Homo sapiens: one gene and its partners. The protein of the gene in region 1 interacts with the protein of each later gene in a pairwise test. Each region holds a gene or a part of one and is shown on either strand. Other genes may lie near its edges.

Evidence for each region.
Region 2: the proteins of LSAMP (region 1) and CENPV interact in binary tests that used the Homo sapiens proteins (3 or more experiments, as listed by UniProt).
Region 3: the proteins of LSAMP (region 1) and THAP3 interact in binary tests that used the Homo sapiens proteins (3 or more experiments, as listed by UniProt).
Region 4: the proteins of LSAMP (region 1) and CD248 interact in binary tests that used the Homo sapiens proteins (3 or more experiments, as listed by UniProt).

Annotation. Positions count from the first base shown.
Region 1 is NC_000003.12:116,434,931-116,442,754, reverse strand, and holds part of LSAMP (limbic system-associated membrane protein isoform 1 preproprotein), read left to right. Parts: intron 1-7,824.
Region 2 is NC_000017.11:16,343,276-16,351,099, reverse strand, and holds part of CENPV (centromere protein V), read left to right. Parts: intron 1-1,070; coding exon 1,071-1,169; intron 1,170-2,414; coding exon 2,415-2,484; intron 2,485-6,388; coding exon 6,389-6,503; intron 6,504-7,824. UniProt on the Homo sapiens protein: Required for distribution of pericentromeric heterochromatin in interphase nuclei and for centromere formation and organization, chromosome alignment and cytokinesis.
Region 3 is NC_000001.11:6,620,156-6,628,125, forward strand, and holds the start of THAP3 (THAP domain-containing protein 3), read left to right. Parts: upstream 1-4,712; 5' UTR 4,713-4,799; intron 4,800-4,994; 5' UTR 4,995-5,063; coding exon 5,064-5,137; intron 5,138-7,970. Other genes in the region: PHF13 (PHD finger protein 13), read left to right, coding at 1-182, 1,256-1,482. UniProt on the Homo sapiens protein: Component of a THAP1/THAP3-HCFC1-OGT complex that is required for the regulation of the transcriptional activity of RRM1.
Region 4 is NC_000011.10:66,314,045-66,321,771, reverse strand, and holds CD248 (endosialin precursor), read left to right. Parts: upstream 1-4,727; 5' UTR 4,728-4,744; coding exon 4,745-7,018; 3' UTR 7,019-7,278; downstream 7,279-7,727. UniProt on the Homo sapiens protein: Cell surface glycoprotein involved in various biological processes including angiogenesis, immune response modulation, and tissue remodeling and repair. Participates in pericyte proliferation through positive modulation of the PDGF receptor signaling pathway.

The DNA of each region.
Region 1 (7,824 bases):
CTGGGAAAGAAAAGACAGACAAACAGAGCATGCAAATAAGTCGCCTATGAAACACCATTTCTTTTCCAGACCTCACCTTACATGCCCTCTTTTTTATTTCCTTGCCTTGGACAAGGGTTTATTTTGGGGTTGGTGGAGCTTCATCAGAATTAACTATGGAGAGAATTCCCTTTGTCTTCTTAGCTGACCTTCTTCTCAATCTCTTTAAAACCGGTAAGCTTTCTGGGTCAGTTTCCTGGTGAAGAATGGTGCTCTTGCTTTCTGCTTATAAGGCCAGCCTGGGAAAGGTGTGTTTTCACTTTATTTGTGACATTTTACTGGGTGCATGAGCTTTCAGGGAAGGAAAGGAAGGAGAACTTGATTCATTGGAAGCCACAGTAGATGTCTGGCACCGAGAAAGTGAAATGGCTAGGAGAAAAAAATAATTCTCTTAGTGAGTTTGTGGCCCCGAATGATATGAGATGGCAACAGGAGACAAGGGAGGTTTGTAATTCTGGTAATCCAGTGACAGGAGTTTGGCTGTCTGTCCCCAAAACATTTACCTTCACTGACTTAAAGTTTTCTGTGAAACAAGAGTTTCTTTTGGGGATTGATGCTCATTTTTGTATAATTATGATCTTTAGTGTAATTATGCATCAGATAGGAGAGTGCACACTAGGCTTCAGGTCTTGCCCTCAATTTCTATCATTTTGAAAATAATAAAAACTATATAATTATGGTGACAAAATTGGAGGGAAAGAGAGGTAGCTTCATGTATACATACCTAACTCAATTATTTTCTAGAGGAGATTACAGACCTGTGTGAGAAATTATATAAAGAACTAAAGATAACCACAATACCAACTTCTGTCCCAGGGACAAAGAATCAAAGTGTGATTCACAGAGTAGTGGCGGCAGCAGCAGCAGCCTTGGCGGTCCTCCCTAAATAGAACAACCAGAATCTGCATTTATATTTGTGTGTACAGGAAAGAGTGAGACACGCTTATCCGCAGGACTTCAGTCATGAAGCTGCCTCAGGTGCTTTTCTAAACAGAGTCTACCTGCCTCATTACCAGCTCCCACAGGAGTAAGAGTTCAATTACAGGATAAGTTTCTAACACTGTTTCTTCCCTCCTACCCTCATACCCATAGAGATTCACCTCCTGCTTAATATTGGAAGGTTGAGACTATGTATTAATAGTTCTCTTACAAGTCAAAGAATAGCAGAAATAGAGGGTATTTCAAACCAACCTTTAAAATTTCATTTTTAATAGTCCTACTGACCATATTTTCAACATGAGTGGCAGATTTCTGAAAAGATAATAATAAAATATTTGGCCACAAAGAACCATGTTAGTTTTATAATACATTATATTATCACATATCTATTCATAAGGCAACTTTGTAAAACGTACATACACATGCGTATCTGGATATAAAACAAGTAGGCATGTGATAAAATACAGGGACTTCACACTTGTGATTTTAAATATTCTAAATTCAAGGTAATAAAATTTTATTTAGCTCACAATTCTGACCCTATCTGATGTTTACAGGATATTATAATACTTTTAATGATAATAACATTGTTCCCAGTTAAATGTTAGCGTACCTAACAAGTATTACAGATTCCCAAGGAAACTAAGTATCTAAATGAAGAATAGCTAATGTTTAGTTTTTTCAAAGTTGGGGTCTTTAATTCCCTGTTTGTTTCTACACCAAGGGGGGAAAAGAAGAAACAACAAAAGGAGATTTGATTATTTGATAGTGAAATATAAAGATCTTGTTCAAATTTCTGTTTATCTTCTGTAAATCATGTGGAATGGCAATATTCACTAATGAAGTGTCAACCCTCAAATTCTTGATACGATATGTGATTTTCTATGACTTACAATTCACTATTTGAAACAAACTGTGGGCATGGGCCTACTGGGTAAGTTTGTGACCATCATGAAATTTTCTTTTTCTGTAGTTAAATCACTAAATGTTATCAAAATTTGTTGGTTAGCCCTGATACTGTAAGGATCGTGCATTGCAGATAAATCCTTTATCAAATATACTTAGTAAATGATGGAGTATAGCATACTATATATCATCTAGGAATATGGCATATTATATACATTTTGTTAAAGAATATTTATGTACCTGTGAGCTTTATCATTTGTTGTCATTTATGGCCTGAGAAACAGAGTGGGCAAATCTCGCAAGAAAAGCAAATTGTGGCCACCTGTGTTTCTGTAAGTATGGGACATATAAGTGGGTTTATACACACATACAATACACAGGAGATTTTTATTTTATGTGGTTTGACTTAGAATGACGTATTTGTAGAATTGTGGAAAGAACCAAAGGTGACTGACTCATCCACTGAGTCACTGGTGAGGGTTAAACCTTTGTGTTTCTCAAAGCTGATTCCACATAACAGCAAACTCTGCCCAAAAAGGATTAGTGCATTTTACCCTGGTCTCTGAGAGTGCCAAATACAAAGGGCTGTGACTCCCCTGATAGGAGGTTGCCTCAATATCCTTGTCCCTCTCCCTGTCATCATCTGAGCCTCAGAGATATCCCTCCTCCAGGGCATAATTTACAGCTTATAGCCACTGGCCCTGTTTTTCTCTCAATGTCCTACCTCTTAGTTTGTACGACTCAGAAGATCTGGGCTCTGAATTTGGATCTATCCTTGCATGCTGTAACTTTAAGCAAGTCTCTTGAATACTTTGAGCTTCATTTTCCTTTACAAAATGCTGAAACTGTCAGCTGGGTGCGGTGGCTCACGCCTGTAATCCCAGCACTTTGGGAGGCTGAGGCGGGGGGATCACAAGGTCAAGAGATTGAGATCATCCTGGCCAACATGGTGAAACCCCATCTTTACTAAAAATACAAAAACTAGCTGGGCGTGGTGGCGCCCACCTGTAGTCCCAGCTGCTTAGGAGACTGAGAAAGGAGAATCGCTTGAACCCGTGAGGCGGAGGTTGCAGTGAGCCAAGATCGCGCCACTGCGCTCCAGCCTGGCGACAGAGCGAGACTCCGTCTCAAAAATAAATAAATAAATAAAAATGCTGAAACTATCTATTTTAGTTACCCTACAGGGTTGTTTTAAGACGTTCACAGGAGGTAAGGTAGAAGTTTGTTGAATTATAAAGTGCTACACAAATGTAAACAATCAACGGCTTTTCAACCACATACAGCCAGTTATTTAGACTTCAGAGAATTCTTTTTTCTTTTTTCTTTTTTTTTAGGCCAGTGTGTCTCAAATTTCAGTGTGTATGTGGAGGGCTTGCTATAGCAGATTGCTTGACCTCCATCGCTAGAGTTTTTGAGTCAGTAGGTCCCTGGTAAGTCTGAGAATTTGCATTTCTCACAAGTTCTCAGGTGATGCTGATACTACAGGATACTACAAGTGTGATCCACAGGTGGGCATCTTAAGTATCACATAGTTGCATTAAAAAAAAAAAACAACAAAATCTCAGGACCTATGCTGGAGGGACTAAATCAAAGTCCACATTTTAATAAGACTTCCAAGCGATTCGCTAGCATATTGAGGTTGGAGAAGCACTGCATTCGATACTTCACAGCCACGGGAGCACAGTACCATCAGCTGGGGAACTTCTAAAAAATACTGCTGCCACATATCCTCTCTTCTCAGAAATTCTGATGTAGTTTGTTTGGGGAAGGGACTGGGCACAGGTTGTCGTTCTTTTGTTTTTTAATGATTCTGCTATGTACATAGAGGTAAAAACCAATGCCTAACTGGATAAGGAGTCTCCTTTACAGATCACTTTCAGGGCAGCACTAAATAGATATCAGTAAAAAAATTGGAGTCACATTGTATCGTTTGAGAAATATATCAGTAGCCAAAGATGAACAAATTCAAACGGGAGAGAGGAAATAGACCACCATAAACCCATTTGTTTGTTACACAATTTCATCCTTATGAGCCATGGAAAATGGGGTGACTTTATTTAATATGGATCAGATTTACATAACGTCTATGGAAATAACATAAAGCTTATTATTCTGTGCTGTCTCTCATTTGGGTTAGACAAGGTACAGAACTGTTCTAAGTTGTTTTTGTTGTTGCTTCTAATGCTATCACTAAGGGAGAAAACAGACAATATTTAGACAAGGAAACTGGCTTCTGTGCCAACATATTCAAGCACAGTAAATTCTGTGCACTTATATATATGAACATGTGATTTGCTAAATAATTGTATAATTCATCTCAATTTTATATAGTGATTTCTCTTTAGTTGAAACTTATAGAAAAGCCTATGTCATAGATAAAGACTTTTCATAAAGGATGTAATAAGTTCAAAATGGTCAACAAGTAGTCAGAAGATCAACCTCTTAATAGCATGAAATACTGTAATTTATTAAATAAAGATAACTGACAACTATTTTTGCCTACTACACAAGCTATTTTTATGATCAAATGATATTGTATGTATCAAAGTATTGTATAAACTCTATAATGGTATAAACTATAAACTCTTAAGACTATAGTCATATATTTACAGCAGGATATAACTTTTAGAAAATTTTAAAAATGTAAGAAAACAAGCCTTTTATTCTTATTTCTATGCTATACACAGGCCATTTGCACTACGATGTTTTTATTATGTCATTTCAAGTCCTTTAAAGTCACAAGTATCTTACGATATAGTTGAGTTTCTTATCAGGAGTGCAGGGCAAGTAGACTTTTTTTTTTTTTTTTTGTAGTTACCTGTAATTAAAACTTAATCTCCAGTTAATGTGTGATTAACCTTTACAAAATAAAACACTTTACTTCAGATTTTGTTAATTACTGTAGGAAAACCTCATAGATATGTAGAATAGGAAAGGCCTTGGAGATTAGGCAGTCCACCATCTCATTTTAAAGTGTTTTAACTGAGAAGAGAAAAATTTAGTTCGTTATCCAAAAACTTGAGTGATCAATTGAGAATTAGAACTCATGTATTTTAATTTTCATTTCACAGTACCACTGAGATTACCTTTTTGGTTTTCATTTTATCTGATGAAATGCCATTTTTATTATACATAAATGTATCCTTAAAATTGTCTTTCTCTCCTCTTCCTTCCTCTCCTTTTCTCTCCTCTCCCCTTCCCTTCTCTCCCTTCCTCCTCCCTCCAATTCTTCCCTCTTGCCTTCTCTCCTCCCTTCTCCTCTCTCCTTCCTCTCCCCTTTTCCCTCTCTCTTCTCCCTGTAAATCAAATCTGCATTTACCTGTGGAGGATCATCCAGTTAGTGCTGGTCAAGGAGGATTTGTTTCAAGGAAATGTCCCATCTTGCACATGTCTACTATCTGTCTGTACCACATGGGTTTTCCTTCCTCCACTTGCAGCTTCCAGCTTATTGGTTTTTATTATTTTTTTTTCCATAAGTTATTGGGATACAGGTGGTATTTGCTTACATGAGTAACTTCTTTAGTGGTGATTTGTGAGATCCTGCTGCACCCATCACCCGAGCAGTATACACTGCACCATATTTGTTGTCTTTTATTCCTCGCCCCCCTTCCCCCAAGTCCCCAAAGTCTATTGTATCATTCTTATGCCTTTGTGTCCTCATAGCTTAGCTCCCACATATCAGTGAGAACATATGATGTTTGGTTTTACATTCCTGAGTTACTTCATTTAGAATAATAGTCTCCAGTCTCATCCAGGTCATTGCAAATGCTGTTAATTCATTCCTTTTTATGGCTTAGTATTCCATTGTGTGTGTGTATATATATATATACACATATATATATATACACACACATATATATACACATATATATATATGCATATATATATATGCCACACTTTCTTTATCTACTTGTTGATTAATGGGCATTTGGGTTGGCTTCACAATTTTGCAGTTGTGAATTGTGCTGCTATAAACATGCATGAAACATGCGTGTGCAAGTATCTTTTTCGAATAATGACTTCTTTTCCTCTGGGCAGATATCCAGTAATGGGATTGCTGGATCAAATGGTAGTTCTAGTTTTAGTTCTTTAAGGAATCTCCACACTGTTTTCCATAGTGGCTGTACTAGTTTACATTCCCACCAGCAGTGTAGAAGTGTTCCCTGATTGCTGCATCCATGCCAGCGTCTATTGTGTTTTGATTCTTTGAGTATGGCCATTCTTGGAGGAGTAAGGTGGTATCACATTGTAGTTTTGATTTTCATTAGTAATGTTGAGCATTCTTTCATATGTTTGTTGGCCATTTGTATATCTTCTTTTGAGAATTGTCTATTCACATCCTTAGCCCACTTTTTGATGGGATTTTTTCTTACTGATTTGTTTGAGGTCACTGTAGATTCTAGATATCAGTCCTTTGTCAGATGTATAGATTGTGAAGATTTTCTCCCAGTCTGTGGGTTGTCTGTTTGCTCTGCTGACTGTTCCTTTTGCTGTGCAAAGCTCTTTGGCTTAATTAGGTCCCAGCTATTTATCTTTGTTTTTATTGCAATTGCTTTTGGGTTTTGGGTCATAAAATCCTTGCCTAAGCCAATGTCTGGAAAGGTTTTTCCAATGTCACCTTCTAGAATTTTTGTAGCTTCAGGTCTTAAGTTTAAGTCCTTAATCCATCTTGAGTTGATTTTTGTATAAGTTGAGAGATGAAGATCCAGTTTCATTCTAGCCAGTTATCCCAGGACCATTTGCTGAAAAGGGTGTCCTTTCCCCACTTTACGTTTTTGTTTGCTTTGTCAACGATCATTCCCAAAGCTGTTTTTGCATTTGGTAGAACCTCTATAAGGATCACTTGTTCCTCACAACCCCGGCCCCCTTTTAAGAAAATTCTTTTCCTCTTTTTTTCTGGTACCTCTGCCTGTTACTCAGTCTTCTCATCTGAATTTGACCCTTTCTCCCATTTACTACAGCCGAGTTTCTAAACCTGCTGCCTTCTTATTGTTATTTATGAACTTCTGCCTGGTTAAGTTTCCTACCACTGTCCCTCTCAGAGGGACCCTGATTAGGATGGATGTAGATATTCTTTGAACACCCTCAAGAGGTTCTCTACTCATTATAGTCCTTGTAGATTTATTATTTAAGATCCTTTGAGGAAGGCAGAACTTTTTTCCCCCAATAGATACAAAATTTACCTTGGGCTAACAATGAAGCTGATGGTGGCCAATTGGGAGGAACTGGGTATAGATCCAGCTCTGGCTCCTGAGTGGTGAAGACAGTGTGCAAAAAGCCCTTTTGCAGGTGTCTAGTGGTTTCTGGTGTGGCACGCAGGACAAGATCTCTTGAGGTTTTCTGAGCAGTGAGAGTGAGAGGTGGAGGCAGAGATATCCAACAAGGTCTTATCAAGAGAAGGACAAAGCAGAATAAGGAGAAATAACAGGCCAGCACCCCCTAGGTAGTCCCATAGGGAGGCAGGCAGGGGTGACACGGAGGTTATCAGCTGATGGTGAAGACTCAGTTACAAGCCCCAGGAGTTCAGGAAAGGAACAGAGTCCTTGGGACAAGAGCTGACTTGAACTTGAGTCCTCAGGAATTAGGGACTTAGACCTGAGCACATTACCAAGATGGGTAACCTAGTTAAGGAGTAAAAGAGAGGGTCCCAGTTTTTAGAGCTGAAGCTCTGTACCAAAGCTATAGTAACCCAGGGATGACTTGAAGGTTAATCTCAGAGCACGGAGCTCTATCTTTTAAAACTCTTACTGTATAATCTCAGATCATAAAACCTGGTCTAGCTCTGTGGGGAAAAGATGGAGACAAAGGTCTGACATTAAGTAAGAACTGAACTAGTGCTTCTTCCTGCTTTGGTTAAGTTTACCAGATCACATCTTCAGTCTACTTAGAACTTCCAGACTTCATGGAGTTGGCAGAATGAAGGACCTGAGATGACCTATG
Region 2 (7,824 bases), on another chromosome or scaffold:
TTAGCTGGGTGTGGTGGTGGGCGCCTGTAATCCCAGCTACTCGGGAGGCTGAGGCAGGAGAATCATTTGAACCCTGGAGGTGGAGGTTGCGGTGGGCTGAAATCGCGTCACTGCACTCCAGCCTGGGCAACAAGAATGAAACTCCCTCTCAAAAAAAAAAAATTCTATGTAATGTGTATTACAACTATGTAAAACGCATGTGTATGAAGAATACTGGAAAGAAATAGAGCAAAAATATAAGAGCCTTTATTAAGTTTCTCAAAAGGCTCTTCTGGACCTCTGGACTTGATTGAGTACACAGTCTTATTTTTCATAGCAGCCTGTACCTCCTTTATCACAATCATAATTAATTATTATTTGAGTAAATTGTTAAGGTCGGTAAGGGTAGCAATCGTGTCTGCTGTATCTTGTTTAGTGTTCTCTCCTTCGTGCCTAGCTCATAAAAATATTTAGTATTTGAGGCCCGGAGCAGTGGCTCACGCCTGTAATCCCAGCACTTTGGGAGTCCCCGTGGGTGGATCACAAGGTCAGGAGTTCAAGACCAGCTTGGCCAAGATGGTGAAGCCCTATCTCTACTAAAAATACAAAATTAGCAGGGCGCGGTGGCAGGCGCCTGTAATCCCAGCTACTTGGGAGGCTAAGGCTGGAGAATTGCTTCAACCCAGGTGGCAGAGGTTGCAGTGAGCCAAGATCGTGCCACCGTACTCCAGCCTGGGCAATAGACTGAGACTCCATCTCAAAAAAAAAAAAAAAAATTTAGTATTTGACATATAAATAAAAATGTCTGGTGGTGGGTTAGGATCCCTCACATTTTCGAAATGTTTGGAATGTTTTATTTTGCAACTTAATATAATTTAAGAAATTGGTGAAAAGAGAGCTCATGGACAAAGAAGGTGCTGAAACCATTCTTCACTTAGGAAATTGACAGTGCCTCCTTAAAAGCAGAAATGCATCTGGTTGTCATGTAGAAAAGACTTTTGTCTAATCTTCTGTCTTTCTTTCAGCAACAAAAAGAGAGCAGGAGGCAGCTATTCAGAAATTATTATCTTTCTGATTTTTGTTTCATTTAGTGAATACCAGGGCCTGGTGAAGCACACAGGAGGCTGCCACTGTGGAGCAGTTCGTTTTGAAGTTTGGGCCTCAGCAGACTTGCATATATTTGACTGCAAGTGAGTATTTTTTTTTCCCTAAATTGGCTTAAAAGAATTTCAGAGTTAAAATGCAATATTTCAAAATAATCTGGGGAGTTGGGGTACAGAGGAAACATTGGCCTTGGGCTGGTAACTGTTGAAGTCAGGTGATGGGGACAGAAAGGTTCATTGTTCTATTTTTGTTCCTTTTATATGGCTCATCACAGAGCTTCAACAGCATGGCCCAGGTGACACAGAGCAGGGTCCTCAGGGCTTGTGGCTTGTGGCAGCATCACCCTCAGACTGACACTGCTGAGGAGCCGGGGGCGGTTAGCTGCAGGTGTGCCTGGCTGGGTACTGAGTGGAAAGCCTTGGGCAGAATCTTCATAGAAGTCTAGAGTTGGGGAGAGTTGGAGGGTATGTTAGTAAAGGGTGTATACACCTGGAGGCTCCCCAGGCCCTCCACTCTCGCTCTGCTCTTCGGTTGAGGCAGATGGCACTGCTGGCTGTGGAGGGCCTGATTTGTACCACCTTCCCCGGCGTTATGATGGAGCAGGGACGACAGGCTCTGGCTTTGGGACCCAAAGTTGGCATGCAGCTAATTATTTAACAGCATCCAGTCCTTTTTGCCCCTAGGTACCGGAATTATATATGAATAATAAGCACATACGATGGAATTACTCAAATGGAGAACTGACCAGGCTACTAACAATAGAGTCCAGATTGGAAAAGAAGCACTGTGGAATAACTTGTGAGAGGATTCTGTGCTAAATTAGAACTTTTTCAAAGGTGGCCTGAAAAGAGGGGACTTCAGTTTAATTCCAGAGATGGTAATTCTGGGGACGTGTTTTACTTGGAGCTGGACTTCTTGTGACGTGGTGATGAAGAAAGAGGGAAACCTAAACTTCCTTGTCCATTTTTGGTGTGGATGTCTCAGAGACATCAGGTTGTAGCAGTGTCTGAAATTTGTTTCCTAAGTGTCTCTGAAGTCCAGCGCTTCTCTTCACTGTAAAGAACTGAGGGGTGGGCAGTACAGACCTGTCTGTTGGTCCTGTGTTCTGAGCATTGCAGAACCTCGACTGCTGACTTGGGACCCCCCTGGGCTCTGCTGTACCTGCAAACCAGAGGCACTGCTATCCAGGCCTTTGCCCCAGCTCCTCGGCCCTGGATGGTGCTGAAAGGGGCATCATCTGTGGGGTCGGCTGGCTCTCATGGCTGGGCCGCTCAGGCATAGAGGATGCAGGTGGCTGCTCACAATCTGGAATTTGCTCTGTCTTTCTGTAGTTGCAGCATTTGCAAGAAGAAGCAGAATAGACACTTCATTGTTCCAGCTTCTCGCTTCAAGCTCCTGAAGGTCAGTGCTTAAGAGCAGGGTCAAGGAGTGCAGAACCCATTGGTGAGATTTACAGGACCCCCCACCCAACTGTTAGCATGCCGTCTGTAGCATGGGAGGGGCCTGGAGCATAGCAGGGCCTCTCACGGGCTTTGGTTTCAGGTTGACATTTAAAAGGTGGGCCCGGCACAGTGGCTCACGCCTGTAATCCCAGCACTTTGGGAGGCCAAGATGGATGGATCACCTGAAGTCAGGAGTTGAGGACCAGCCTGGCCAACATGGTGAAACCCTATCTCTACTAAAAATACAAAAATTAGCTGGGCGTTGTAGTGCATGCCTGTAATCCCAGCTACTTGGGAGGCCAAGGCAGGAGAATCACTTGAACCTGGGAGGTGGAGGTTGCAGTGAGCCGAGATCACACCATTGCACTCCAGCCTGGGTGACGAGTGAAACTCCATCTCAAAAAAAATGAAAATAAAAAATAAAAGGTTGTGTTATTTTTTACCTTTATTTTTTGGAGGCCTATTTGGTATTGTGGAAACATTTTCAAATTCAGAGAATCAAAAAACAATAAAATCACCCAAATCCTGTCAACTAAAGGTAACCACTGTTAATATTTTGGTGTCTGTCTTTGTGTATTATTTTCTACTCTGAGAAATACATCTAAACCTATTGTCTTATGTTTATTAAGTAGAATTTTACCATTCTTTTTGTTGATAAACTGCTTATCTCATTTCCCAATGAAAAGCTTATATACTTATTTGTAACTTTAATTTTATTATTTTGGGGAATTTTTTGTACTTGGTACAAAATTTGAAAGGTAGAAGAAAATGTGTATATACACAGTGAAAAATCTTTCCCTACTGTCCCCATGCCCCAGTCTCCCTCTTCCCCACAGCCGATTTCCTGGTCTACTTACCCCATCACTGTCTCTGCATCATTGCAGTTGAGTCCCGTTTTTTTCTGATTATCAACAACACTGGTGAACCTCCTTGGTATACATTTTTGACAATTTAGAAATTTCTTCTTTAGGATCAATTCTCTTAGAAATAAGTTCTCTGGCTATTCTGGGCACACTTCCTACACCCTGCTCTACAAGGAGCAGTTAAAAAAAAAGAGAGAAAGAAAATCTCCAGGTTAAAGAATACAGATTTTTTAAAAAAGACTTTTAGCACATTATGGGTAATGTGGGGTTGGGCGGGGCTTTAATTCCATCCAGATAATGCTGGATGGCTTGGGACCACTTGGCAGTCCTTCGCTGCTTTTCTGTGCTGCAGTGGCTATGGAGTGAGCAAGGCTCCTCAGGGAGCTATTTCTATAGGAAGCACAATTCTGGACGGTATGGCTGGGGAAGCGTAAAGAGGGTTAACAAGGATAAGAAACCTCCACCCCTTCCCCTTCAGCTGTCTGATTTCTCTCCCTAAAGGTAAGCCACTGTTTCTTGGATCCCTCTTCAAAGATACATATGCATATAAAAGCACATACAGGCCAGGCACAGTAGCTCATGCCTGTAGTCCCAGCACTTTGGAAGGCCAAGGCAGGCAGATCACTTGAGCCCAGGAGTTCAACACCAGCCTGGACAACATAGCGAGACCCCCATGTCTACAAAAAATAAAAAATCGGCTAGGTGTGGTGTTGCATGCCTATAGTCCCAGGTACTCGGGAGGCTGAGGTGGGAGAATCACTTGATCCTGGGAGGTCAAGGCTGCAGTAAGCTGTCGTCATACCACTGCACTCCAGCCTGGATAACAGAGTGAGATCTTGTCTCAAAAAAACAAAACAAAACAAAACAAAAACACCACACATACCAGTATATAGCCTTAAAAAAAAAAAAAGAAATGGTAGCATACCACGTACGTTGTTTTATACCTTGCTTAACTTTTTTTTTGAGACAGTCTCACTCTGTTGCCCAGGCTGGAGTGCAGTGGTGTGATCTCGGCTCACTGTAACCTCCGCCTCCCAGGCTCAAGTGATTCTCCTGCTTCAGCCTCCTGAGTAGCTGGGACTACAGGTGCCCGCCACCACATCTGGCTAATTTTTACATTTTTAGTACAGACAGGGTTTCACCATGTTGGCCAGGCTGGTCTTGAACTCCTGACCTCAAGTGATCTGCCCACCTTGGCCTCCCAAAGTGCTGGGATTACAGGCGTGAGCCACTGCGCCTGGCCTATACCTTGCTTTACTTTGTAACTTTGGCAATTGTTCCATGTTAGTTTTGTAGAGCTGTCTCATTCTTCTCAAAAGTTGGAGAATATTTCATTTTATGAGTGTCCATAATGCCTAACCGGTCCTCTATTGAGGGACATTTTCAATTTTTCCAATCTTTAGCCTTCATAAACAGTGCTATAGTATCTATATACCTATGTCATTGAGACATTTGGAATATATCTGTATAATAAATTTCAAGAAATGGAATTGTGTGCTAAAGCATATGTACACTTTAAAATTTTGGTAGATGTTGCTAAATTGTACCAATTCCTGTTCCTGTGACTGATATATGTGAGCACATATTTCTCTACATACTTGTCAATACCATGTTAACGGCTTTGATTTTGCCCACCTGACAGTGAAATACATCTCATTGAAGTTCCTTTGGTGAGCATTTCATAGGCTAAAGAGTGATTTATTTTTCTTTCTATCTGAACTGTCCGTTCATGTCCTTTGTCCAGTCTCCCGTTTGTATTATCCATTAAGGAAATTAGCCTGTCTATGACGTCTGGCAAATATTTTTTTCCTGGTTTGTCCTTTGTGGATAAATTAAGCACAGCCATCAGTTTTCTTAAGACCTTGAGCCGTTCTGTTTGGGGACATGGAGAGCCAGTCCCTTGGGTGAACTGTCTCTCCACATAGGCCCTGGGAAGCAAGCACTTTCCCTCCCTGATGTGATGTATCAGGGAAGGCTCAAGGCTGAATTCTGTATGCCGTTGACCTAAGGGAAGCTGTGAGCTGTCACGCTCCAGACTGACATGTCTCTGGATAGTGTAGATGGGTCTCTGTCCTCAAGAAGGTCCCAGTCTCTTCTGGAGATAGGAAATGGCCTCTTAGTACAAAGAGCCCTACAGAAGAGCTCCTGCCATTAAGTTATTTCAAGATTTTTTTTTTTAATGGTGCGATCTCAGCCCACTGCAGCCTCTACTTCCCCAGGCTCAACTGATGCTCCTACCTCAGCCTCCCAGGTAGCTGGGACTACAGATGTGTGCCACTGCACCTGGCTAATTTTTATATTTTTTTGTAGAAACAGGGTTTTGCCATGTTGCCCAGGTTGGTCTTGAACTCCTGGGCTCAAGCAATCCGCCTGCCTCGGCCTCAAAGTGTTGGGATTACAGGCATGAGCCACCATGCCTGGCCAAAGGTGTTTTTTTTTTTTTTTTTTTTGAGACGGAGTCTCGCTCTGTTGCCCAGGCTGGAGTGCCGTGGCATGATCTCGGCTCACTGCAAGCTCGGCCTTCCAGGTTCATGCCATTCTCCTGCCTCAGCCTCCCGAGTAGCTGGGACTACAGGCGCCTGCCACCACACCCGGCTACAAAGGTGTATTTTTTAAGTGACATAAAAATAAATGTCTTTGGGGCCAGGCGCAGTGGCTCACACCTGTAATCCCAGCACTTTGGGAGGCCAAGGTGGGTGAATCATGAGGTCAGGAGTTCGAGACCAACCTGGCCAACATGGTGAAACCCTGTCTGTACTAAAAATACAAAAAATTAGCTGGGCATGGGGGCACGCGCCTATAATCCCAGCTACTTGGGAGGCTGAGGCAGGAAAATCTCTTGAACCCATGCAGGTGGAGGTTGCAGTGAGCCAAGATTGCGCCACTGCACTCCAGCCTGAGAGACAGTGGGAGACTCTGTCTCAATAAATAAATAAATAAATAAATTAAATAAATAAATCTCTTTGTAAAAAAGAATACCGTTTGTCTGTTTTCACCTAGGGAGCTGAGCACATAACGACTTACACGTTCAATACTCACAAAGCCCAGCATACCTTCTGTAAGAGATGTGGCGTTCAGAGCTTCTATACTCCACGATCAAACCCCGGAGGCTTCGGTGAGTAAAGGGGATGGACTGCAAGCTCAGGGGGACACAGAGAGGCCCATGGTGCTCTCATTTAAAGTCTTATTTGGACAGGTGGGATGCTGACTAGACCCTGTCACATGCGTATCTTAGAGGAACAGGGCTCCTCAGCAGAGCGCTTTCCACATGATAGAATGTGAGTCGGGCTCCGGTGAAACTTTTCTGAATCCCATATCTGAATGTGGTGAAGTTGGACTTGGAGCCCATCCAGGTTGTGATTCTTATTCACTGGTGCTGGTAGAGCTGGTGTTGCTGGGGATGGTGTTGAAGGGTAGGGAGGAGAGGGGTGAGGAGATGGGCTTGTGGGGCCAGGGGAGGCAGCTTTAATAATGACAGGGGTTAAGGGAGTGAAGGAGGCAAGATTGGGGAGCATTGATAATGGCATTTGAAAGCTTTTTGGTTGTTCAAAAATTAGGCAGGACTGGCTGGCTGCGGTGGCTCACACCTGTATCCCAGCACTTTGGGAGGCCAAGGTGGGAGGATTTCTTGAGCTCAGGAGTTTGAGACCAGCCTGGGAAACATAGCAAAACCGTATCTCTGTTCTTTTTAAAAAATAATAAACAAGCAGGGAACCCTCCAAGCCCCGCTTCAGGGCCTGCTTGGGTCTGGGGAGTAATAAAACTAACCCTCTGACAGTTGTTGAGAATCATACCAACTATAGTGTGAATTGAAGGGGAAAGCAGAGGTGGAAGATGTTCTGAGGACTCTTGTTGTGTCAGTGCAGCCTCCAGAGCTGCGAGAGCAGCTATGACTGTCAGTGTCTTTTGCCTTATGGTGGTGGGGAGCGGACAGGGGAGGTGGGGGAGGCAGGGCAGGGCAGGATGTCATCCTTACCGCTCCCCCATTGCTTCAGGGCCTCCTGTTCCTCATCTGTCACATGGAGACTCCTTCCTGTCTACCTTGCAGAACAGGAAAGAGTTGAAAAGTATGAAATCCTGTGCAAATGGGAAGACATTTAATTCTTAGAAAGTTATCTATCTGAGGCCAGGCATGGTGGCTCACCTGAGGTCGGGAGTTCGAGACCAGCCTAACCAACATGGAGAAACCCCATCTTTACTAAAAATGCAAAATTAGCCAGGCTTGGTGGCGCACGCCTGTATTCCCAGCTACTTGGGAGGCTGAGGCAGGAGAATCACTTGAACCCGTAAGGCAGAGGTTGCAGTGAGTCAAGATCACGCCATTGTACTCCAGCCTGGGCAACAAGAGCTAAACTCCATCTGAAAAAAAAGGAAAGAAAGTTATCTATCTAAACACAGGAAAGGCCTGTGAATTCTTCAGGCTGCCAGTCAGAGAT
Region 3 (7,970 bases), on another chromosome or scaffold:
CGACCCCTGCTCGGGCTGGGACTCCGATACTCCCTCGAGTGGATCTTGTGCCACTGTGTCACCTGATCAGGTCAAAGAAATAAAAACTGAAGGCAAACGGACTATCGTCCGGCAGGGAAAGCAGGTGGTGTTCCGAGATGAGGACAGCACTGGCAATGATGAGGACATCATGGTGGACTCAGGTGAGTGGTCCCTGAAGGATGATGACCCTTGTTGGCTTGTGGTTAGAAGAGAGGTTATTTTATTAAGTGGTCATCTCTCTGGGGCACAGGGTCTGGTGCCTTCCGTAGAGTGTGACAGCCCCACTGTCCAAGGAGGAGAAAAGCTGCAGGAATGTGGATATCGAGATGTTTAGGAAGGGGTTGATTGCCACTAGAGACAGCTGAGATTCTAAGACCTTAGAACATAAAAAGGGTATAGTTCTAAGTAAGCATCCAGGTAAGCATCCAGGCCGGGCACGGTGGCTCCACCAGTAATCCCGGCACTTTGGGAGGCCAAGGCAGGTGGATTGCTTGAGCTCAGGAGTTGGAGACCAGCCTGGGCAGCATGGCAAAGCCCTGTCACTGCAAAAATACAAAAAAAGGCTGGGCGCAGTGGCTCATGCCTGTAATCCCAGCACTTTGGGAGGCCGAGGCAGGCAGATCACGAGGTCAGGAGTTCGAGACCAGCCTGACCAACATGGTGAAACCCCGACTCTACTAAAGATACAAAAAAAAAAAAGAAAAAATTAGCTGGGCGTGGTGGTGCGCGCCTGCAATTCCAGCTACTCAGGAGGCTGAGGTAGGAGAATTACTTAAACCCAGGAGGTGGAGGTTGCAGTGAGCCAAGATCGCGCCATTGCACTCCAGCCTGGGCGACAGCAAAACTCCGTCTCAAGAAAAAAAAAAAAAACAATAGTCGAGTGTGGTGGTGTGTGCCTGTAGTCCCAGCTATTTGGGAGGCTGAGGTGGGAGGATGGCTTGACTGCAGGAGTTTGAGGCTGCAGTGAGGTATGATTGCACCACTGCACTCCAGCCAGGGTGACAGAGTGAGACCCTGTCTTAGGGAAAAAAAAAAAAAAGTAAGCATCTCCTGGGTAATACCTGGTTCCCACACATTTTGGAGCCCCTCGTGCCTTTTCAGAGAGAAGTGTCAGCTTCGAGTGGCAGTTGGAAGTGTTCTCGTCAGTAGAGTTAATGGGTTTCATGGAAGCCCAGCTGATGGCGAGGAATGATGGGAATTTCTCTTCCCTCCTTGAGAGTATCTTTCCTTCCAGATGACGATTCCTGGGACCTCGTGACCTGCTTCTGCATGAAGCCATTTGCCGGCCGCCCCATGATCGAGTGTAATGAGTGCCACACCTGGATTCACCTGTCCTGTGCGAAAATCCGGAAATCCAATGTTCCAGAAGTGTTTGTCTGCCAAAAGTGCCGGGACTCCAAGTTTGACATCCGCCGTTCCAACCGCTCGCGGACGGGCTCCCGGAAGCTGTTCCTGGACTGACTGCTGGCTGGCGAGGAGGCTGCGAGCGTGGAATCGGAAGCGACCGCGGGCTTTTTTGCCCTTCTCTTAGTTGAGCACAGAACCCTCAGCTCTGGTGCGGGCAGATCCCTGCCATTTAGGTGCCTAAGCAAAAGGACAGGCTGTCCAAGGTAGAAACTGTACATAGCCGGTGACCGAATGCGACCTTTGCCAGCCAGAGCTGCTGCCAGAGCTGCGTTCCCTGCAGTGGAGGTGGACTGGACACCCACGTGCAGCGGGTTTGGCTCATTTGAAAATGAGGGTCCGTGGTAGCTGTGCGTTTTGCTATCATTGCTAAGAGATTCCCGCTGATTGGGCTCAGTGCCAGCTGTTATTCTGCTTCCACTGTGTTGGGGAGAGGTGTTCGGTTTCCCCAGCCTGTTAATGAACAGCCATACGTGTAAGCTTTTTCTTGAGTGTTAAGTCTTTTACCAAAAGTGTCTGTACAGCAGCCATCCAAGTTGCCCCTACTTAGTGGCTTGCCCTCTGCCTGCCTCAGCTGCTGCCTGACCGGCTGGGGGAGGCACTGGCGGGAGGCCTCGGGCTCCCCTGGAAGGGCGCTGGGCTGGCGGGTCAGCTGGTGGTTCTTAGGTTTCCTTCTGTTTGTTAAAAGGGACAATGTGGCCACTTCTCTGTGGAAAGGGAGTTGGTTGGGGGGTTGAGATGGCCCGTGTTCATAACTCAGTTTCCTGTTTTGCACGATGTAAAAACCCTGTCTTTTTGCACGATACAGCCAAAAGTATTGGCTGATTTCTTGCTGAGTGCCCTCTTAGTTGGTGTGTGAGGTCTTGGTGGGCTCAGGCCAGCTGTTTGCGAGTGTGGGAACTCATAGGTTCTGTCTTTGTCTCTTCCTTTCACCTCATTCTGGTAGCAGCATAAAGGTTAGGCAATCACTGGGACCCGCATGGTGTTCCTCCAAAGAATAGGGTAAAGGAGAGCTGGGAGGGAGCCCTCTCCGTTGGGTGACTCTTGTGTGCCCTTTAGACAGGCTGGCCTGCCGGTTCCACAGGGTACAGTTAGGACTTGAGTCTTTCTTTTTCTGTTTTGAGTTGGTGAGTGAGTGATAGGGTAACATGGGCCTTCAGGATGACCCCTTGGAACTGTGCCGAGTTCCTTAAATCTCAGCTGGGATCCTGGACCTGGGAGGCCCCTGTGAGGGCCAGCTCTGGAAAAACCTGGGAGTTGATGCCGGAGGCTGTGGAAGAACTCTGCTCGAGGGCAGGGTGCCCTGGAACACTGGTAGTTCTGGGGCTGGGAGGGAGAGGGGCTCCGGCTTTCTCTGAAATGAACACTGCTCTTCAGCAGTTCAAGTACTTGTTCTCAAAACATTTTCTAATTGATTGGTAGGTTTTCATAAGCATTGTTTCTTTAAGGCATGGAAAGGGAAGAATGCTCAAGCAAGTCATGTTTGTTTTCAGTGGGATGGGCCCGCGTTCTCACTGCTGGGGGCTTCCCCTTCATGTGGCACCTTTGTGCCAGGCCACCAGGCAGACTCTTCCCACCTTCTCCCACTGAAGCACCAAGGGGCTTGAACCGTAATTTGGCTAATCAGAGGCATTTTTTTTGTCCTAGTATCTTTCACACTTGTCCAACCGTCTTATTTTTTTAAAAGTTCTGTTGCTTGTATTAACACGAAACTAGAGAGAAATAGTTTCTGAAGCCAGTTTATTGTGAAGATCCCCAAGGGGGAGGTTCGGTAGAGAAAAATAGTAAGCTGGTTTAGAAACTGACGAGGGCAAACAGCCAGGACGCATTGGAGAGGAATTTGCCAAAGATCTACCCTGAGATAACGCCTGTCCAGTGTCTTCACCACGTGAATAACCAGCGCTCCAAAGTGTTTTTCTGCTTTGAAAAAAAAAAATTCCACAAGCTTTTAAAGGTGCATTTAAGAATCCATGTGACTTTAGAATGGAACTGCCGGCCCTGGCAACTGTCACGTGTGCTAGAAGGTTCGATGCCTCTGGAATGCATGTGATACTCATCTCCATTTTGTTTCCTTGATTGCATTTTTGTTCTTTTAGCAGATCTGTCCCTGTGGGTGGTGTCTAAGAAGTCGGACACCTTGGTTTTTGTGTTAGATTGAGCTGGGCAGCTGCAATCAGCTTCTTTATATGCAAATTAGGCACGACCCATCTGTGGTTCCTGGTTGGTGGCTAATGAAGTGAGGGGAGGGAGGGATGTCACCCCAAAAGTAGGCCCTCCCATTGGCTTTGGCCAGGCCAGACACTTCACATCGTTTACATGGTTCTGTGTAATTTTAAAGTTTATGTGTATAAAGCGAAGCTGTTTCTGTGAAACTGTATATTTTGTAAATAAATATATTGCTACTTTGAGGTTCATGATTCAAGGTTCAGGCGATTGCGTTCTGTGCTGAAGGACAATTGTGTTTCTTTTCTCCTTGCTACCTCCCCAAAGCATGATTACATCAAGTCTCTGGGAAGGCAGCGTCTCAGTGTGCACTTAGCAGGATGGAAAATGCCCACGGTGTTAAGGTACCTTGCTGGTGAATTCCTTAGAAACAAACCACAGGACGAGTAGATGTGAATGGTTTTTGCAGTTTCTTCATCAGATTGAGGATTAGCTCAAGCCCCAGTGAGTGGTTAGCCTACTTTTGATTTTTTTTTTGTTTTTGAGACTTGAGTTTCGTTCTTGTCACCTAGGCTGTGAAGTGCTGTGATGAGATTTTGGCTCATTGTAACTTCCACCTCCCGGGTTCAAGAGATTCTCCTGCTTCAGCCTTCCGAGTAGCTGGAATTACAGGTGCCCGCCACCATGTGCGGCTAATTTTTGTATTTTTAGTAGAGATGGGGTTTCACCATGTCGGTCAGGCTGGCCTTGAACTCCTGATCTCAGGTGATCCGCCTGCCTCGGCCTCCCAAAGTGCTGGGATTACAGGCGTGAGCCACTGCGCCTGGCCGATTTTTTTTTTTTTCTTCTTACAAGATGACGCCTTCCCTATAGGCTGCTTTGAGAAAGCTGCAGCCTCGGAGTTTCTGCAAGGCCTGAACTGGAATCTCCCTCCCCTTCAGTTGCCCTTTTTGCCTCTTCACGTTTGGGGGTTCCCTGTGACCAAACTTAAGGGCAGTGAGCTGTCTGGCCTCTGAACTGACACCACCAGTGGCCAACTAGTACCACCTCCAGTGACGTCAGAGGAGTCCAGACCTATTCACAATTCAAAGCCCTAAAAACACTGAGGGGTTGGCCGTTGGTTTCCAGTTGTCCAAGCCTGTGAGTGGCTATGCGTCCTGGTTGGGTGCTCAAAGCAAGGAGGTGAAAGGCGACCAGCATTGGCGAATGGGGTAAGACTTGCACAGGCCCAAGGCTAGGAGTTGGGGTTTCGGGCCTGAATTGGGGCCCGGAGCACCCCTTTACGTGGCGCCCCGGGTCCCGTCCGACCCTGGGGAGACGCGGGTGGCTGGGATGGCAGGATGAGCGCGCCCTGGAGGCGAGCCAGGCCCGTCACCACCTCCCAGCGGCCCCGCCCCTCCCCGCAGGTCCCTCCCCTCTCCGCAGGCCCCGCCGCCGCCGCCATCTTTGTTGGGGGCAGCCAGGCCTGGCTCGAGATGCCGAAGTCGTGCGCGGCCCGGCAGTGCTGCAACCGCTACAGCAGCCGCAGGAAGCAGCTCACCTTCCACCGGTAAGAGGCGGGGACCCGGGGGCGCGGGAGGCCCAGACCCGGGGCCCGCGGACCGACTCCGAGGCCTTGGCGCGCCGGGCGGGAGGCCCAAAGGCGTGCGGCCGCTGGGCCCGGGGACAGGCCGAGGTCCTGGGCCCAGAGGGGCTGGCGCCGCCGCGCCCGCCGCGGGGATGCGGGGAGTGGCGGACGGAGGGGCAGCGGCGCACCTGGCGGGGCCAGGGCCGGGACGTGCAGGGAGCGGAGCAGGTGTTTGCTGAACAGACTAGCGGGCCGCGGCCGGGGTTTGCTGTGTCCCTGGTCGCTGCAGCCCCCGCCGCGCGCGGTCCTGAAGGGAGCCCGGCACCTGGGCAGTGCAGTGGAGGAGTGGAACCCCCAGGGGCGTCCTGGCAGTGGGAAGGGACTCTGCAGGGTCGCGGGAGGACGCTGGAGACTTTGGAGTCTGCTCCAGCACTCGCCCGGCCCGGCCCGGCCCGGCCCAGGAGCAATCGTCATTAGTCACAGTTGCGCTTTCTCCAAGGTCCAGTCACGGCACCATTTCTCTACCCACTTTTGGGCACATTCCGAAGGGGGGCTTGTGCTCATCGTTCCCATTCCCTCTGCTCCCATTGTTCTGTTTTGTGATAAATGCTTTGCTTGAAGTATACGTAATGTACATGCAGAAAAATGCACGAATCATAAGTATACAGCCCAGCGAGTTTTCCCCAAGTGAACGTCACTGAACTGAAACGTTACCAGCTGGGCGCGGTGGCTCAAGCCTGTCATCCCAGCACTTTGGGAGGCCGAGGCGGGAGGATCGCTTGAGCCTGGGAGTTCGAGACCTGCCTGGGCAACAGAAGGAGACCCTACCTCTACAAATAATTTAAAAAAATTAGCCAGGCAAGGTGGTGTGCCCCTGTAGTCCCAGCTGCTCGGGAGACTGAAGTAGGAGGATCGCTTGAACCCAGCTTCGAGGCTGCAGTGAGCTATAATCTTGCCACTGCACTCCAGCCTGGGTGACAGAGCGATACCTCATCTCAAAATAAGAAATAAAACATCACTACCCCCGAGAAGAACCCCTACCTGGACCCCCTCCCAGGCCCTCCTCCTCTCTCCTGCCCAAAGGGAACCCTATCCTGCCCGCTATCAGAGTGGATTGCAGTTCATTCGCTTTCGTTGCCACATAATATTCCATTGAATGCAAGTGCCAGAATTTACTGATTTGTTCTACAATTGAAGGGCATTTGGGTGGCCCCATTTTTTGGATGACAAATACATGGTTCTGGAGGCTGGGCGTGGTGGCTCACGCCTGTAATCCCAGCACTTTGGGAGGCCGAGCTGGGTGGATCACCTGAGGTCAGGAGTTGGAGACCAGCCTGACCAACATGGTGAAACCCCGTCTCTACTTCTCTACTACAAATACAAAAATTACCCGGGCGTGGTAGCGCGCACCTGAAATCCCAGCTACTCAGGAGGCTAAGGCAGGAGAATCACTTGACCCTGGGAGGCAGAGCTTGCAGTGAACCGAGATCGCACCACTACACTCCATCTTGGGCAACAGAGCGAGACTCCGTCTCAAAAAACAAAACAAAACAAACATTGTTTTGGCCAGTTTTGGTGGGACTTGTGTTGCAGTGCATCTATCTGTTTTGCCTCTGTCAGGTATGTACTTGGGGATGGAGTTGCTGCGCCTTCTCTCTTGAAGTCGTTTCCTCCACTCCCACGAGAGCTCTGTCACATCACTAGTGAGCCTTGTGACACTGATCGATTGCATAGCATTTCACACAACTGACCCCTGAGCCTGGGTCACTTTTCCCGCATGGCGTCTGGTACACTTCTTGGCCACAGGTGTCTCTTCTCAGTCTCCTTTGCTGGATCCTCCTTATTTCCAGCACTAAGTGTTGGAGCCCTGGGGTGTGGGCCATGGCCCAGGGGTGGCTTCTAGCCACACTTGCTCCCCAGGGGCCCATCTCACCCAGGCTTATCGGTTCCGCAGGGTTGGCCGCCACACTGACATCTCCAGATGCGTGTGGCCGCCTGTCACCCCAGCACATGGAGAGCCTAAAAAGCACCTCAAATTTAACTCCTGACATAAAAAACAAACTTCTTTTTTTGGAGACAGACTCTCACTCTGTTGCCCAGGTGGAGTGCAGTGGCGCAGTCTCGGCTCACTGCAGCCTCTGCCTCCCTGGTTCAGGTGATTCTTGTGCCTCAGCCTCCCAAGTAGCTGGGATCACAGGAGTGCGCCACCACGCTGGGCTAATTTTTGCATCTTTAGTAGAGATGGGGTTTCACCATGTTGGCCAGGCTGGTCTTGAACTCCTGAGTTGAGGCAGTCTGTCTGCCTTGGCCTCCCAAAGTGCTGGGATTACAGGCGTGAGCCACCATGCTCAGCTGCTACAAAACAAACTTCTGATCCCCTTAACCTGCCGTCCTGTAACTTAATTTTATCTCCAACATGAAACTCCTTCCTTCTCAATTTTACCATCTACAGGCAAACCTTACTGCATGGCTTTCAAAATACATCCAAGTCTGCCCTCTCATTACCACTTCCTGCCAATGCCTGGTCCCACAGCAGCCAGGGTGGACCCAGGTTCCATCTCACCTCTGTCTAGAGCCTCCAGGGACTCCCCAGCTGCTCAGGGCCCTGCGTCATGCAGTCCCCACTCCCTCTCGCTGTCTCAGCTGGACCTGCGTGAGTGGCCGTTCCTGCTGTCCCTTCTGAAGCCTGCGTCGCTTGTGCTGCCACTTCCTGCGGTCTGTGCTCAAACATCACCCCTTCAGCTGCCTCTCCTCACCACCCCAGGGCTTCCCTCTGTCTGTTCTCTGGAGCAGCTGTCATCCCCAGAAGACACCG
Region 4 (7,727 bases), on another chromosome or scaffold:
GGGAACATGACATTTGGCAATGTCTGGAGACATTTTGGATGGTCCAACTGGAGGGATGCCACTGGCATCTACATAGGAGCCAGGAACACTGCTAAACACCTTGCAATGCACCACGCAGTCCCTACAACAAGTAATTACCGAGGCCTGAATACCAGTAACTCCAAGGTTGAGAAACACTGGCTAGGGGAGATTTGGGCCATAAGCAATAAGCAAATCCACAAGTAAATTTCTTTTTCTTTCTTCCTTCCTTCCTTCCTTCCTTCCTCTCTCTCTTTCCTTTCCTTCCTTCCTTCCTTCCTCCCTCCCTCCCTTCTTCCTTTCCCTTCCTTTCCCTCCCATCCCCACCCCTCCCTTCCTCTCCTTTCCTTCTTCCTTCCCCTTCTTTCTTCTCCTTTCCTTCCTTCCTTCTCTCTTTCTCTCTTTCTTTTTAAAAAATTTTTTTTATTATTATTATACTTTAAGTTTTAAGATACACATGCACAACGTGCAGGTTTGTTACATATGTATACATTTGCCATGTTGGTGTGCTGCACCCATTAACTTGTCATTTAGCATTAGGTATATCTCCTAATGCTATCCCTCCCCCATCCCCCACCCTACAACAGTCACCGGTGTGTGATGTTCCCCTTCCTGTGTCCACGTGTTCTCATTGTTCAATTCTCACCTATGAGTGAGAACATGCGGTGTTTGGTTTTTTTTGTCCTTGCGATAGTTTGCTGAGAATGATGGCTTCCAGCTTCATCTATGTCCCTACAAAGGACATGAACTCATCATTTTTTATGGCTGCGTAGTATTCCATGGTGTATATGTGCCACATTTTCTTAATACAGTCTATCATTGTTGGACATTTGGGTTGGTTCCAAGCCTTTGCTATTGTGAATAGTGCCGCAATAAACATACGTGTGCATGTGTCTTTATAGCAGCATGATTTATAATCCTTTGGGTATATATCCAGTAATGGGATGGCTGGGCCAAATGGTATTTCTAGTTCTAGATCCCTGAGGAATCACCACACTGACTTCCACAATGGTTGAACTAGTTTACAGTCCCACCAACAGTGTAAAAGTGTTCTTACTTCTCCACATCCTCTCCAGCACCTGTTGTTTCTTGACTTTTTAATGATCGCCATTCTAACTGGTGTGAGATGGTATCTCATTGTGGTTTTGATTTGCATTTCTCTGATGGCCAGTGATGATGAGCATTTTTTCATGTGTTTTTTTTGGCTGCATAATTGTCTTCTTTTGAGAACTGTCTGTTCATATCCTTCGCCCACTTTTTGATAGGGTTGTTTGCTTTTTCTTGTAAATTTGTTTGAGTTCATTGTAGATTCTGGATATTAGCCCTTTGTCAGATGAGTAGGTTGCAAAAACTTTCTCCCATTCTGTAGGTTGCCTGTTCACTTTGATGGTGGTTTCTTTTGCTGTACAGAAGCTCTTTAGTTTAATTAGATCCCATTTGTCAATTTTGGCTCTTGTTGCCATTGCTTTTGGTGTTTTAGACATCAAGTCCTTGCCCATGCCTATGTCCTGAATGGTATTGCCTAGGTTTTCTTCTAGAGTTTTTATGGTTTTAGGTCTAACATGTAAGTCTTTTCTCTTTCTTTCTTTCGTTCGTTCTCTCTTTCTGCCGAGACCAGCTCGGTCGGGGAGACCCTAACCCAGCGGTGCTAGAGGAATTAAAGACACACACACAGAAATATAGAGGTGTGAAGTGAGAAACCAGGGGTCTCACAGCCTTCAGAGCTGAGAGCCCCGAACAGAGATTTACCCACGTATTTATTAACAGCAAGCCAGTCATTAGCATTGTTTCTATAGATATTAAATTAACTAAAAGTATCCCTTATGGGAAACGAAGGGATGGGCTGAATTAAAGGAATAGGTTGGGCTAGTTAACTGCAGCAGGAGCATGTCCTTAAGGCACAGATCACTCATGCTATTGTTTGTGGCTTAAGAATGCCTTTAAGCGGTTTTCCGCCCTGGGCGGGGCCAGGTGTTCCTTGCTCTCATTCTGGTAAACCCACAGCCTTCCAGTGTGGGCGTTATGGCCATCATGAACATGTCACAGTGCTGCAGAGATTTTGTTTATGGCCAGTTTTGGGGCCAGTTTATGGCCAAATTTTGGGGGGCTTGTTCCCAACATCTTTCCTTCTTTTCTTTTTCTCTCCCGCTCGCCTCTCCCCTCCCCTCCCCTCCTCTCCTCTCCTCTTTTCTTTTCCACAGTCTTGCTCTGTCGCCCAGGCTGGAGTGTGCAGTGGCGCAATCTTGGCTCACTGCAACCTCCACCTCCCAGGTTCAAATGATTCTCCTGCCTCAGCCTCCCGAGTAGCTGGGATTACAGGTGCACCACCACGTCCAACTAATTTCACAAGTAAATATATTTAATGTCAGATAGTGATAAGTGCAGAGCGAGAAAATGCAGGAAGATCCAGTGGTCAAGGAGCCCCAGGGGGCGGTGTGGGGTGGGGTGAGATGGTCAAGGACTCTGGTACTTGAGCTGAGCCCTGGAGAAGGTAAAGAAGCAGAGCATTTTTATATTGGAGGAAGAGCATTCCAGGCAGCAGGAACAGCCAAGACCAAGGCTGTGAGGCAGAGTGTCTGGAGCATTTAAGGAACAGCAATGAGGCCAGAGTTTGGAGGCAGATGACATAGACCAGGAGGCCATGGCAAGGACTGTGGCCCTTCCTCTAAGCGAGATGGGGGGCTCAGAGGGTTCTGAATGGAGAAGTGATCAGATCTGACTTGGATTTTGAAAGGATCCCTCTGGCAGGATGGAGAGGGCAAGAGAGACACCACGGGAGAGGCTGTTGGGGAAATCTAGATTGGCGTTGCTAGCCACCTGGGCCGGGGGTGGGTGGCAAAGAAGGTGTCCAGGAGTGGTCAGATTCTGGATCTCTTTTGAAAGTGAAGCCAACAGGATTTGCTGAGAGACTGGATGTGGGCTGTGGGAGAAAGAGAGGAGTCAAGCATGACCTCAAGGTTTGGGGCCTGAGCCAACAGAAGGATGAACTCCTCCATCTTGACTTTTGTCTCCTGAGAAGGGGAGTCATTCTGTGTGCTTCACATGTATAGACCTTGTAAGAAGGAACTTCCAGGCATATGGCAAGAACTTCCTAAGCCCTGGTTCTCGAGGGGCTGGCTGGGTCTGCAGGGCCAGCCTAGGCACTGTAAGGTGGTTTGCAAAAACGCACCCTGGTCTCCACCCACCACATATGCTCAGAAGACAGGAACATTTGCTTCAGGCTCCACAGCTGACAAAGCACATTTGCAAACACTGAGCGCTGTGACGCAATATCTCAGCCCTGCTGAGCTAAAAATCCTGGACTCATTGCCCTCATGTTGCAACTGAGAAAAAAGGAGACCCAGAGAGGGCCAGTGACTCCCCTGCAGTCACAAAGTCGATCCATCTGTGGCAGAGGGGGAAGCTGCATCAGGGCAGTTTACTGAAGGGCGGAACCTCTCCCCCACCTCCCCACACTGTTTCTAACTTCTGCTAAGAGTGCAGCGGGTGTGCATGGGTTAATCCGCCAGCCAGCTCCCCAGAGGCCATCCTGGATGATGGGCTCAGTGCACATGCCTCCAGAGGCCTCCAGGAAGGGCGGGAAGAGGACCCTGGCCAGGCCGAAACAGCAGGCCCCGGGGGCAGGGAGGGCTCCACACACGTGATGCCTGTGTCACATATACACATATATGTCACTGTGTGCCCCATGCCCATACATGGCCTTGCATGGGTCCCCTCACAGCCTTCCACATCCTGCGTGCAGCCCAGCCCCCACCCAGCCCCCTAAACCACGCACCCTGCCTTCCTGACGCAGGAGCCCAGAGAGGCATTTCCTGTTTAGGGGCTGCCTCCTCCCCCTCTAAGCCCAGGTTCCCAGGGCCCCAGGCTGAGCTGGGGTGAGGGGAGGGCAGCCCCTGGCCCCCTCACTCCCCCAACACCCCCACACGCTGGCCCAGCTGGAACCAGAAAGCTTGAGTATAGGGGGAGAGGCTGACGCAGGGGCTCAGTAAATAAATGAGAGGCTGAGGATGCCTGTGCCTGGGTGACCAAGCTGTTTCCATTCAGGCCGAATCGGAGGTCTTCATATGTCAGGCCATGTAGAATGCCACACCATTTTTGTATGTGCACCTAGGGTCTCAGCATGTCAGAATGTGTGTACGTGTGGCAAGGGAGTCATCTGCAAGCCAGCATAGGTCCACGGTGAGGTGAAGGGACAAACAGCTTGGCAGAGAGTGCACTCTTGCATGGGGTTGGGGGTGGGGGAGGCGCATGCGCGCGTCTGTGGGGCAAGAAAGGAGTGGGCATGAGGGTGTTCCCGTGCATGGCGAGCAGCTGGGCTGAGACTGCTCCCGGGTGTGATGGGGCTGCTGTGTCCAGATTTGGGTCTCTGAGTCTCTGGGAAGCGACCTCACCCCACAGCCCCGAGCCCCAACTTGAGGGTCACAGAGCTCGGCAGGCAGGCTTTTCCCACCCCCTGACTCTCAGCCCCATGGGGCCTGGGGCAGCCGTCAACTGCGCCTTCTCCCCTCCTCCGCCCCCAACCTTAGAGCCCCCCACCCCACTGCTTCCTGCTCTAGCGGCCCCCGGGGAAGAGGGAGCAGGGAGCTGGCAGCCGCCCCAGCCCACTCCTTACAAGGCCTGAGCCCGGCCCCAGGCCCGCCCCCGGCCCGCCCGCAGGAGGCCCCAGGCCCTCCCCCTGTCAAGAGCTGCCGCCAGCCCGGGGCCGGACCAGTCCGGGGGCATCGCGATGCTGCTGCGCCTGTTGCTGGCCTGGGCGGCCGCAGGGCCCACACTGGGCCAGGACCCCTGGGCTGCTGAGCCCCGTGCCGCCTGCGGCCCCAGCAGCTGCTACGCTCTCTTCCCACGGCGCCGCACCTTCCTGGAGGCCTGGCGGGCCTGCCGCGAGCTGGGGGGCGACCTGGCCACTCCTCGGACCCCCGAGGAGGCCCAGCGTGTGGACAGCCTGGTGGGTGCGGGCCCAGCCAGCCGGCTGCTGTGGATCGGGCTGCAGCGGCAGGCCCGGCAATGCCAGCTGCAGCGCCCACTGCGCGGCTTCACGTGGACCACAGGGGACCAGGACACGGCTTTCACCAACTGGGCCCAGCCAGCCTCTGGAGGCCCCTGCCCGGCCCAGCGCTGTGTGGCCCTGGAGGCAAGTGGCGAGCACCGCTGGCTGGAGGGCTCGTGCACGCTGGCTGTCGACGGCTACCTGTGCCAGTTTGGCTTCGAGGGCGCCTGCCCGGCGCTGCAAGATGAGGCGGGCCAGGCCGGCCCAGCCGTGTATACCACGCCCTTCCACCTGGTCTCCACAGAGTTTGAGTGGCTGCCCTTCGGCTCTGTGGCCGCTGTGCAGTGCCAGGCTGGCAGGGGAGCCTCTCTGCTCTGCGTGAAGCAGCCTGAGGGAGGTGTGGGCTGGTCACGGGCTGGGCCCCTGTGCCTGGGGACTGGCTGCAGCCCTGACAACGGGGGCTGCGAACACGAATGTGTGGAGGAGGTGGATGGTCACGTGTCCTGCCGCTGCACTGAGGGCTTCCGGCTGGCAGCAGACGGGCGCAGTTGCGAGGACCCCTGTGCCCAGGCTCCGTGCGAGCAGCAGTGTGAGCCCGGTGGGCCACAAGGCTACAGCTGCCACTGTCGCCTGGGTTTCCGGCCAGCGGAGGATGATCCGCACCGCTGTGTGGACACAGATGAGTGCCAGATTGCCGGTGTGTGCCAGCAGATGTGTGTCAACTACGTTGGTGGCTTCGAGTGTTATTGTAGCGAGGGACATGAGCTGGAGGCTGATGGCATCAGCTGCAGCCCTGCAGGGGCCATGGGTGCCCAGGCTTCCCAGGACCTCGGAGATGAGTTGCTGGATGACGGGGAGGATGAGGAAGATGAAGACGAGGCCTGGAAGGCCTTCAACGGTGGCTGGACGGAGATGCCTGGGATCCTGTGGATGGAGCCTACGCAGCCGCCTGACTTTGCCCTGGCCTATAGACCGAGCTTCCCAGAGGACAGAGAGCCACAGATACCCTACCCGGAGCCCACCTGGCCACCCCCGCTCAGTGCCCCCAGGGTCCCCTACCACTCCTCAGTGCTCTCCGTCACCCGGCCTGTGGTGGTCTCTGCCACGCATCCCACACTGCCTTCTGCCCACCAGCCTCCTGTGATCCCTGCCACACACCCAGCTTTGTCCCGTGACCACCAGATCCCCGTGATCGCAGCCAACTATCCAGATCTGCCTTCTGCCTACCAACCCGGTATTCTCTCTGTCTCTCATTCAGCACAGCCTCCTGCCCACCAGCCCCCTATGATCTCAACCAAATATCCGGAGCTCTTCCCTGCCCACCAGTCCCCCATGTTTCCAGACACCCGGGTCGCTGGCACCCAGACCACCACTCATTTGCCTGGAATCCCACCTAACCATGCCCCTCTGGTCACCACCCTCGGTGCCCAGCTACCCCCTCAAGCCCCAGATGCCCTTGTCCTCAGAACCCAGGCCACCCAGCTTCCCATTATCCCAACTGCCCAGCCCTCTCTGACCACCACCTCCAGGTCCCCTGTGTCTCCTGCCCATCAAATCTCTGTGCCTGCTGCCACCCAGCCCGCAGCCCTCCCCACCCTCCTGCCCTCTCAGAGCCCCACTAACCAGACCTCACCCATCAGCCCTACACATCCCCATTCCAAAGCCCCCCAAATCCCAAGGGAAGATGGCCCCAGTCCCAAGTTGGCCCTGTGGCTGCCCTCACCAGCTCCCACAGCAGCCCCAACAGCCCTGGGGGAGGCTGGTCTTGCCGAGCACAGCCAGAGGGATGACCGGTGGCTGCTGGTGGCACTCCTGGTGCCAACGTGTGTCTTTTTGGTGGTCCTGCTTGCACTGGGCATCGTGTACTGCACCCGCTGTGGCCCCCATGCACCCAACAAGCGCATCACTGACTGCTATCGCTGGGTCATCCATGCTGGGAGCAAGAGCCCAACAGAACCCATGCCCCCCAGGGGCAGCCTCACAGGGGTGCAGACCTGCAGAACCAGCGTGTGATGGGGTGCAGACCCCCCTCATGGAGTATGGGGCGCTGGACACATGGCCGGGGCTGCACCAGGGACCCATGGGGGCTGCCCAGCTGGACAGATGGCTTCCTGCTCCCCAGGCCCAGCCAGGGTCCTCTCTCAACCACTAGACTTGGCTCTCAGGAACTCTGCTTCCTGGCCCAGCGCTCGTGACCAAGGATACACCAAAGCCCTTAAGACCTCAGGGGGCGGGTGCTGGGGTCTTCTCCAATAAATGGGGTGTCAACCTTACCCAAGGCTTCTGACCCCCACTGGTGCTTAAGGGAGGTTCTGGGAGGACTCAGCAAAAAGGAGGGGATCTTCCTTCAGTTTGTCTGAGTCCTCAAAGAGATAAGGTAAGATCCCTTTAAGGGAGGGTATGCCTCAGAGATTCTCAGGGAAGCAGGAGCCCAGAGAGGGCAGAGCCTTGCCCAAGGTCACACAGTTGAGCCCAGCAGTGGGAGGTTTGGCATGGGGAGAATTTCATATTTATTCCTTATTTTACCAAAGCTCCAAGAAGGTGGGGCTGAATCTGGGGGACGGTTGTGGAATTAGGGCATCTGCTGAACCGGACTGGGGTTTAGGGGTCAAAGTAGGCTCTGGGGCTGGTGATTCAGAGGAGTGAAGGAGGGGTCTAGTGGGTGAGTTGCTCCTTTCTTCAGACACTTCCCTTCCCATCCCTGTAAGCTTCGCGGAAGTTG